2 linked regions of the Homo sapiens genome follow. The protein of the gene in region 1 interacts with the protein of each later gene in a biochemical or structural test. Each region holds a gene or a part of one and is shown on either strand. Other genes may lie near its edges.

What was found. Proteins that work in one complex are often made in the same cells at the same time.
Region 2: the proteins of KCNA10 (region 1) and POMP form a complex in vitro, tested with the Homo sapiens proteins (one study listed by BioGRID).

Annotation. Positions count from the first base shown.
Region 1 is NC_000001.11:110,515,118-110,520,828, forward strand, and holds KCNA10 (potassium voltage-gated channel subfamily A member 10), read right to left. Parts: upstream 4,059-5,711; 5' UTR 3,671-4,058; coding exon 2,135-3,670; 3' UTR 2,100-2,134; downstream 1-2,099. UniProt on the Homo sapiens protein: Voltage-gated potassium ion channel that mediates K(+) permeability of excitable membranes.
Region 2 is NC_000013.11:28,672,630-28,676,129, reverse strand, and holds part of POMP (proteasome maturation protein), read right to left. Parts: intron 1-3,500. UniProt on the Homo sapiens protein: Molecular chaperone essential for the assembly of standard proteasomes and immunoproteasomes. Degraded after completion of proteasome maturation. Mediates the association of 20S preproteasome with the endoplasmic reticulum.

The DNA of each region.
Region 1 (5,711 bases):
TTTCACCCACATCAGCTGGCTTATCATGAAGTGGAAGTTGTGTGGAGGCATCTGAGGTTGCAGCACTGTGTCTTGCAGGATTGTGTGGAGCTGGGTGGCTGTCTGTGTGATGACTAATTTTATGTGTCAACTTGACTGGGCCACAGGGTGCCCAGATATTTGTCAAACATTATTCTGGGTGTGTCTGTGGGGGTGTTTCTGAATGAGATTAACCTTTAAATCAGTAGACTAAGTAAAGCAGGCAGCCCTTCCTAATGTGTGTGGGCCCCATCCAATCAGTTGAAGGCCTGCATAGAACAAAAAGGCTGATTCTCTACCCCAAGCAAGGGGCCATTCCTTCTTACTGACTGCCTTTGAGCTGGGACATTGTTTTCTTCTTGCCTTCTGACTTGAAATGAAACATTGGCTCTTCCTGGGGCTTGAGCCTGCTGGCCTTCCTACCAGAACTGCACCATGGTGCTCCTGAATCTCCAGCTTGCTGACTCACCCTGCGGACATGGGACTTTTCAGCCTTCATAAATGCGTGAGCCGGTTCCCTACAAGAAATCTCTCTCTCTCTGTATATATATGTACACATATAAATATACACACATGCACACACACACACGCACACACACACCCTATTGGCTCTGTTTCTCTGGAGAACCCTGACAGACACAGCCAGGACAGTGTGTTGGGAGTTGTGTGAGGTGGAGCTGTGGCCCAGGGGCATTGTTCTGGTGTTGACACATCTTTGAGTGGCCACATGTTGGGTGCTGGGACTGAGGACAGCACAAGGCCTCCTTATTTGACCGGGTAGATGGGGGAGGGACAGAGTGGAGGCTTCTTTCCCTGTCCTTTGGGGAATCCCAATTCTACTCCCTCATTCTGGGAGTTTGGAGGACTGAGCAGCCTCCTTTCCTAGGAGGGCAGTCCTTAGGCCGGCCTGCTACAACCATCCTCCTTGAGTAAGCCTGGGGCCTGGGCACATGACGTGGAAGCCTGCTCTTCCCTTCCCAGCAGCTCCACAGGCTATTGGCCAATTCCTGATGACTCAATGGGAGCTGAACCTCGAGGCAGGTGGACAAGTGCACTTTCCTGGAGCAGTTCTCTAGGGCCCACAGTTCCCACACTCAGGATCCCCAGTCTTTGTGTAACTCCATGGAGATGAGCCAGGTGAAAACATCGAGGGATGTTTCTGCTTGTCCACTATCCAGAAAAGGGGCTGAGGAGCAAGGGGTCAGGGAGATGCTGCCTTCCCAGGCTGTGAGGAGATCCTGAAGCATCCGGGGAAGGGTGTCTCTGCCCAGAGGTTTGCTGCCTGGACCCTCTGAAAGTCCCCTCAAACTCCTCTCACCTTTCCCCCAATTCTGACACATCTTCTTCATTAGTGGAAAGGGCACTGGGCTAGTAGGTAGGAGATTTGACAGCATTGACTATATCACTGTTTCTGGGTGACCTTAGGTAAGTTGCTCTCCCCTGGTTTGTTCACCTGTAATGTGGGAATAATAATCAAATCAAATAATAATCAAATCTGATTATTCTAAGATGCAGTGAGATAATGTAGGTGAAAGTGTTTTTGGAAAATTTATGCAGTGCTACACAAGTACAAGGTATTATTATTATTGTAATTGAATAACTCTGAGCTCTTCCTCTTTGCTCACAGCAACCCTTGGTCTTTTCATATGCTTCCTCGTAGGAAGACCAAAACCAGTGCTTTTAAATCTTTAATATGCAAACGAATCACTTGGGATCTTGTTAAACTGCAGATTCTGATTCAGTAGGTCAGAGTAGGCCTAGATTCTGCATTTTCATCCTCCCGGGTGATACCAGTATTTCTGGTCTGGGGACCTGAACTATCCCTTCATAGGAAAAGAGATCCAAATCTTTCTATAATGTATTGAAAAGAAACAGTTTAGAAAATACAGTAGAAGTATGGGCTTATTAAAATAGCTTGTAGTCAAAGATAGTTATTGATCACAAAAGATACATTTTGATCTTTGGAAAGATGAAATGAGAGAAGGGAGAGGGAAAGAGGAAGGAATGAAGGGAGGAAGGGAAGGCAGAAGGAAGAGAGAGAGGAGGGGAGAAAGCGAGAGAGAGAGAGAGAGAAGAGAGAAGAGAGACAGGATGGACCCAAGAAGCCCTGGACTGATCATTTCCTAGACTTCTCTGTGGAACAGCCACCATTGGTCTTATTAAGAGAGTCTGTGCTGCCCATTCTTGAGCCTACACTGTTGAGGATTCTTTCAATTTCTCCTGGGATGTTCTGCTTTTCTTCATTCTCAGTCTCCCGGTGGTAGAAGTAATTGAAGTTGGAGACAATGACAGGCACAGGGAGGGCAATGGTGAGGACCCCTGCAATGGCACACAGAGTGCCCACAATCTTCCCCCCTGGGGTGGTCGGGCACATGTCCCCATAGCCTACAGTTGTCATGGTGACCACTGCCCACCAGAAGCCATCAGGAATGCTAGAGAAATGGGACTCTGGCTCATCCACCTCAGCAAAGTAGACTGCACTGGAGAAGAGGATGACTCCAATGAAGAGAAAGAAGATGAGCAACCCCAACTCCCGCATGGACGCCTTCAGTGTTTGCCCGAGGATCTGCAGCCCCTTGGAGTGGCGCGAGAGCTTGAAGATGCGGAAGACCCTCACCAGGCGGATGATCCTCAGGATGGCCAGGGACATGTTCTGTTGGGCACTCGGCTCTGTCTCCTGGACTAGCTCTGTGATGAGAGTTGCAAAGTAGGGGATAATGGAGATGATGTCAATGATGTTCATGATGTTCCTGAAGAAGTCAGTCTTGCTGGGGCAGACCACGAACCGGAGCACCAGCTCGAAGGTGAACCACACGATGCAGGTAGACTCCACCATGAAGAAAGGGTCGGTGAACATGGTCTGGGAGAGGACTGTCTTGCTCATGTTGAGATTGGGGTCTCTGACCACCTTTAGCTCCCTATCCTCCCGGAACTCTGGCAGTGTCTCCAGGCAGAAGATGGTGATGGAGATGACCACAACCAACACCGAGACCACGGCCACAGCACGGGCAGCGCTGGAACTTTCAGGGTACTCAAAGAGGAGCCAGAACTGACGGTGGATGTCATTGGTGGGTAGCAGTGTTTCAGGGTCTTTGATGAAGCCTTCATCCTCCCGGAACTGGTCCATGGCCTCACTACCCAGCTCATAGAAGGAGATTTCATCAGCAAAGATATCAATGGGAACATTGGCTGGGCGCCGAATTTTCCCACCAGATTGGTAATAATATAGGATTCCATCAAAACTGGGCCGGTTCCGATCAAAGAAATACTCATTTCTCATGGAGTCAAAGAACTGCATCCTTTTTTCCCGGTCTCCCAGGAGAGTCTCTGGGAACTGACTAAGGGTTCTGAGCTGGGTCTCAAATCTCAGCCCAGCAATGTTGATGATCACCCGCTGGTTTCCTTCATTTAGGACCACTGGCTCAGGCCCTGGGGGGTCAGCATAGTCTCCCGGAAGCTTGGAGAAGGCCGTCTCATGGTTGGTGCTTTCGCTGATGAGGATCTTCCCGTTGGAGAAGGAGCTGCCCCCAGGCCGGCCTTTTGGGCTGGTTGAGTCGAAGTCTGTGGCATAGCCTGGCTCTTCTTGGATTTCATCTGAATTATCAAAATTGACCAGCGCAACCTCCATTTCTTTCCAGCCACACACATCCATTCTAGGGGAGCCAGGGAAGAAGCATGAAGATCCTCAGCCTTCACTGCCTGCTGTGAGCTATGGAGAAGAAGAAGTTCATTATACAAGATCCAGGGCAGAATACAACTGGCCCTTGTTTATTGAGGTAAGGTACACCAATGGGCTAATCAATGACTTATTTGTAGCTTGGGAAGGAACGTCATGGTTATTTTGGCAGCATGCTTCCCTTAAAATCATTTTGTACCCCTGAGTTTGCATAAACTAATAACTAGGAGAAATTGCAAAAAAAGGATCCTGGCAAAGAAGGGGAGATTCTCCCCAGCAAAGGATGGTCTCCATATGTGATGGCAGAGGGGCCATACTAAAAGAGGAAGTTAACATTCCTTAATAATAAAAAGCATGATCTTGTATTTGCATGAAGCCTTCTGTCTCACCAAACACGTCTCCATGCCCAATCTCATTCGTAATGCCTCTCTTTCACACCAACAGCCAGTCCCTCACACATCCTTTTGGTCATGTCTTCAAAATATATCTAGAATTCAACCATTTTGCATCACTTCCACCCCTGCTTCTGGACCAAGTGGTGAAGGGTGGAACCAGATCTATGAACCCAATGGGGATTCTTTAGGGAAGGAAAAACAAGACGCTGGGTTGGCCAATCGACAATGTCCTCTAAATGACCCCTCACCTGGAAATAACTCCTAGAGTTGTTTTGAAGGTACCTCAAATGAGATAACACGTATGGAATGCTTGGTGGAAAGAAAGATCACTATATTATAGCTATTGTTTTTTGTCAACTTTCCCACATAACAAGCACTTTAGAAACTACCAGCAATTGGAATTTTTTTTGGCCTGAGTCCAAGGTGTCCATAGGAAGTAATTTCATTTTGAGAAATCATTTTAGGTGGGAAGGAAGTAAATAATTGTGTGTGTCTGTGTGTGTGTGTGTATATGTGTGTGTGTGTGTGTGTGTGTGCGCGCGCACGCTGGAGGTGGGGTTAGGAAATCATGCCCAGTGGGCTTGGACATCTATACACATAGACTAATATTTCTTTCCTCAGGTTCATTCTAGCTTCAGTTTCAATTTAAGAACACTGAACCCAGGCAGGCTGGGGGTGGGAGTGGGAGAGAAGTAAGGGACTTAACCTCAGGCAAAATCTGTAGTGGTCACAGCCTTGGAGAGGTTTCCTTTACAGGCGACAAGGCTATCCTGCAGTGTAGTGTTGTAGTCTTTTCAAAGTGATTCCACATTCACTTATCTCACTAGATGACAATAATCACGTGAGGTTAGATGTTATCTCTGTTTTGCAGATGCGGAAACCAAGTCACAGGGACAAAGTGACTTCCTAAGGTCACATAACTAGTGCTACAGAGTCCTGACCTAAACCTGGCCATGGCCTTCTGGCCCAGGGCCTTTCCCACTAGACCATGGAGTCCCTATATAGGAGCTGAGCCTTGTGGGGAGCTGTAGGCTAGGGCCACAGAATTGTCAGGGGTCCAGAGCTCTTTCCATCCCATGACCCCTTTTCTCAGTTCAGGTGCCATGTGTTGAATGATGAGCTCAAGTCTGGTTGGTCAGCACTGGTAGAGTACCCATTCTACCTCTCAGGAGTATGTGGCCATTGCAAACGGCCTAATTTCACGGAGCTGCTGCTTCCTCAGTTGTGGAATGAGGAAGGATGTACCCACTGCCAAGCATGCCAGGTGCCAGCCTGCTCTGCAAGGCTCGGTGAGCAGTAGGATGGCTGGGAGGCAGGATGGAATCTGAGAATAGAATCAGTCCACCCGAGTTCAAATCCTGGCTCTGTACATGGTAAAGCCCTGGAGAAATGTAGCTTCACAGTAATTCGCATGATGATTTGGGGGCCTTGTCCTGAACTGCTTGGCAGCTGGATGGCTGTGGGTGGGGGACTCCAGCTCTGTGTTGATCTCATGTCTTCGGAGCACCATTTTCTCCTTTGGGGTCTTGGACCGCAGATGGTGCTCCCTGATGATTATCTTCCAGGTGTGAATCAGTCCCGCTTTCTGAGAGGAATGAGTACCATCAGTGAGCTTTGGGCAA
Region 2 (3,500 bases), on another chromosome or scaffold:
AGGAGTCTGAGGCAGGAGAATCGCTTGAACCCGGGAGGCAGAGCTTGCAGTGAGCAGAGATCGCGCCACTGCACTCCAGCCTGGGTGACAGAGAGAGAAAAAAAACAAAGCCATGTGATTCCCAGTGCGGAAGGTGGCCCTGTAGGGAGGTAACTGGACCACAGAGTTGAACACTTCATGGATGGTCTAGCACCACCCCCCGGATAAGTGAGTTCTTGTTCTGAGTTCACACAAGTTCTGGTTGTTTAAAGCTGTGTGGCAGCCCCCTCACTCTCTTGCTCCCTCTCGCCATATAATTCACTGGCCCCCCTTTGTCTTCTGCCACGATTGTAAGCTTCCTGAGGCCCTTACCAGAAGCAGATACCAGCACTATGCTTCCTGTACAGCCTGAGGAACCATATGCCAAAATAAATTTTCTTTACAAATTACCCAGCTTCAGGTATTTCTTTATAGCAATGCAAGAACAGACTAACAGTAGTTAACGGAGGACTCTCTGAGTAATATTTAGGTTGGGATCTGAAAAATGAGGGTAAACTATTTGAGGCAGAAAGGAACAGCTAATTCAGGTCCCTAAGGTGAAGCCCTAAGTTAACCGTATATTATGCAATAACAGTTCCCACAAGAAAAAAACTACCCCAAATACAGTGGTCTCACTGTAATCATCTACCAGGTGGATAAAAATCATCTACCTGGCCGGGCGTGATGGCTCACGCCTGTAATCCCAGCACTTTGGGAGGCTGAGGCGGGCAGACTACCGGAGGTCAGGAATTTGAGACCAGCTTGGCCAAGATGGTGAAACCCTGACTCTACTAAAATACAAAATTAGGCAGGTGTGGTCGTGGGCACCTGTAATCCCAGCTACCTGGGAGGCTGAGGCAGGAGAATTGCTTGAACCCAGGAGGTGGAGGTTACAGTAAGCCGAGATCGCGCCACTGCACTCCAGCCTGGGTGACAGAGCTAGACTCGTGTCTCCAAAACAAAAAAAATCTACCTAAACAGGTGATTTTTCCTAATAGCTACCTTAGAGAGACACAAGGAATGAATTTTAAAAGATGCCCACAAGATAGCAAGTGGCTTATTTTTTATTTTTTGAGATAGGGTTTCACTCTGTCGCCCAGGCTGGAGTACACTGGTGTGATCCCTGCTCACTGTGGCCTCAAATTCCTGGGCTCAAGTGATCCTCCTGCCTCAGCCTCCTGAGTACCTGGGACTACAGCTGCACACCACTATGCCCAATTAATTTAAAAAAAAAAAATTGTAGAGACAGGGTCTCATCTTACCCAGGCTGGTCTCAAACTCCTTGGCTAAACTGATCCTCCCACCTCTGCCTCCCAGAGTGCTGGGATTATGGATCTGAGCCACCACATCCAGCCAGCTAGTGACCTTTTTAAACATATAATTCCATCACATTACATCCTTACTTAAAACTGCTCAATGGCCTTTTTTTGCATTCTGAAGAAATTCTAAACTTCTTTTCATGGTCTGTAGGCCCTGATTCATCTGTTCCTTGCTGAGCTTTTTGATCTCAACCTTATTCTACTCTCTACTTTGCTCAAAACATGCCAGCCATATGGGCCTTCTTAAAGTGCTCTTATATATGCTGGGAGACAGTTCTCTATTGGTCTCTCCATTCTGCAAGCTGGGAGCAGAGACACTAAACTGCCTTTGTTCTAGGCTATCTTTCCAAAGCCGTTTCAGCCTCATAAGACAAAGCAGCACAGGACAGGCAGGTTTACTGCCAGTTATAAGGCTGAGGTGGCCTGAACATGGAGTTCCTCTCCTCTAACGTAACACACTCAATGTACAAGGCTTCACCTTACCCTCTTCTTAGCTGCCCCATAGGAAGTGGGGCTAAGGGAACCAAAAGAAATGCTGATACTCTGGCTACGCTATTGCTATGAATAAGAAACTGTCCTTTAGGAGTCTCTTGTCTTCTGCCAGCATCCATGAATTCATGGCAGGCTAACAAGTTAGCTTCAAAGTAGAGTAAGATCTCAAACCGTTCAGAGTTCTTCAGCTGTTCTCAGGTTACATACCCTGAACATACTCATCTCTTCTGTCTGAAATACTCTCCTTCTACTTCTAGGTCAATGATTTCATGTTTCTTTCAGAAATTCACTTCTGTGTTGTATTCCCAGAGGTATGTGCCCTCCCAACCCAAAAACATCCTTTTTATTCCTAGAATTATCAAATTGTATATTTGTGTTTATGTGTTTATCTCCCCCATTTGAAAGCACAGATATTTGTTTTGTTCACAGCTGTATATTCAGAGCCTAGCCCAGTGCCTGACACATATTTGACTGACTAGATAAATGCTCCTAAGTCCCTCTCCCTTTCTTTAAACAGAATTACAGAAGCAGATTTTTAAATGAATGCTTTTGTAACTAAAGACCTGAACTATCACCTTAGTAGTTTTAAATAAGGTCTAAGTTCAATGTAAAAGCTTAAGAATCCCAGCTTTTCCTGCATCCAAAATGCTCCCTCAGGGAAGATTCTGAAAGGAGGCTCACTAGACTTCTGTTATGTCCACAGCATTTCCTTACCGGACATCAGCAGCCAAGCAAAACTAATAAAACTTAATCCTGTTGGATATTTTTGTTTCTCCTGCACTGCTGGGGCATAACGAGCAGAGGCAGCATTGGACAGGATTGTATTTGTTTATCTTCCTCAGGACCAGAAAAAATAGAGGATGCTGCATATATTGTTCTTACTTAAATTCATTTACAATTATTCAGGGAATTTTATTAAAAATAACAGATTCGGCCGGGTGCAGTGGCTCACGCCTCTAATCCCAGCACTTTGGGAGGCCGAGGCGGGCAGATCACAAGGTCAGGAGTTCGAGACCAGCCTGGCCAACATGGTAAAACCCCGTCTCTACTAAAAATACAAAAATTAGCCGGGTGTGGTGATGGGTGCCTGTAATCCCAGCTACTTGGGAGGCTGAGGCAGGAGAATTGCTTGAACTCAGGAGGCGGAAGTTGCAGTGAGCTGAGATTGCGCCACTGCACTCCAGCCCGGGTAACAGCACAAGACTCCATCTTGAAAAAAAAAAAAAAAAAGACAGATTCCTCTTTCCTATTTATCACCTGTAGAAGTACAAAAATTACTTTTTTGGGGAGCTACTTTTTAAAGAAAGATTTATTTTCCAGTTGTTTAAAATGCTAGTCAAAAAACCCCAAAATCAAACTAAACACACAAAAACAACACCAGTCACATCCCAACAATGTGAATTCTGAAATAATTATCATTGTTTAAGTCACCCTAGGAATATCAGACTGACATATTACACTTGAAGCTCAGGACATGAAGTGAATAACCACCATTACTAGACTGAAATGACTATGTACTCTTAGAATTTCATAAATAATTTTCACTTTTTTTCTTTTTATATTTTTAGTAGAGACAGGGTTTCACCATGTTGGCCAGGCTTGTCTCAAACACCTGACCTGAGGTGATCTGCCCACCCCGGCCTCCCAAAGTGCTGGGATTACACGTGAGCC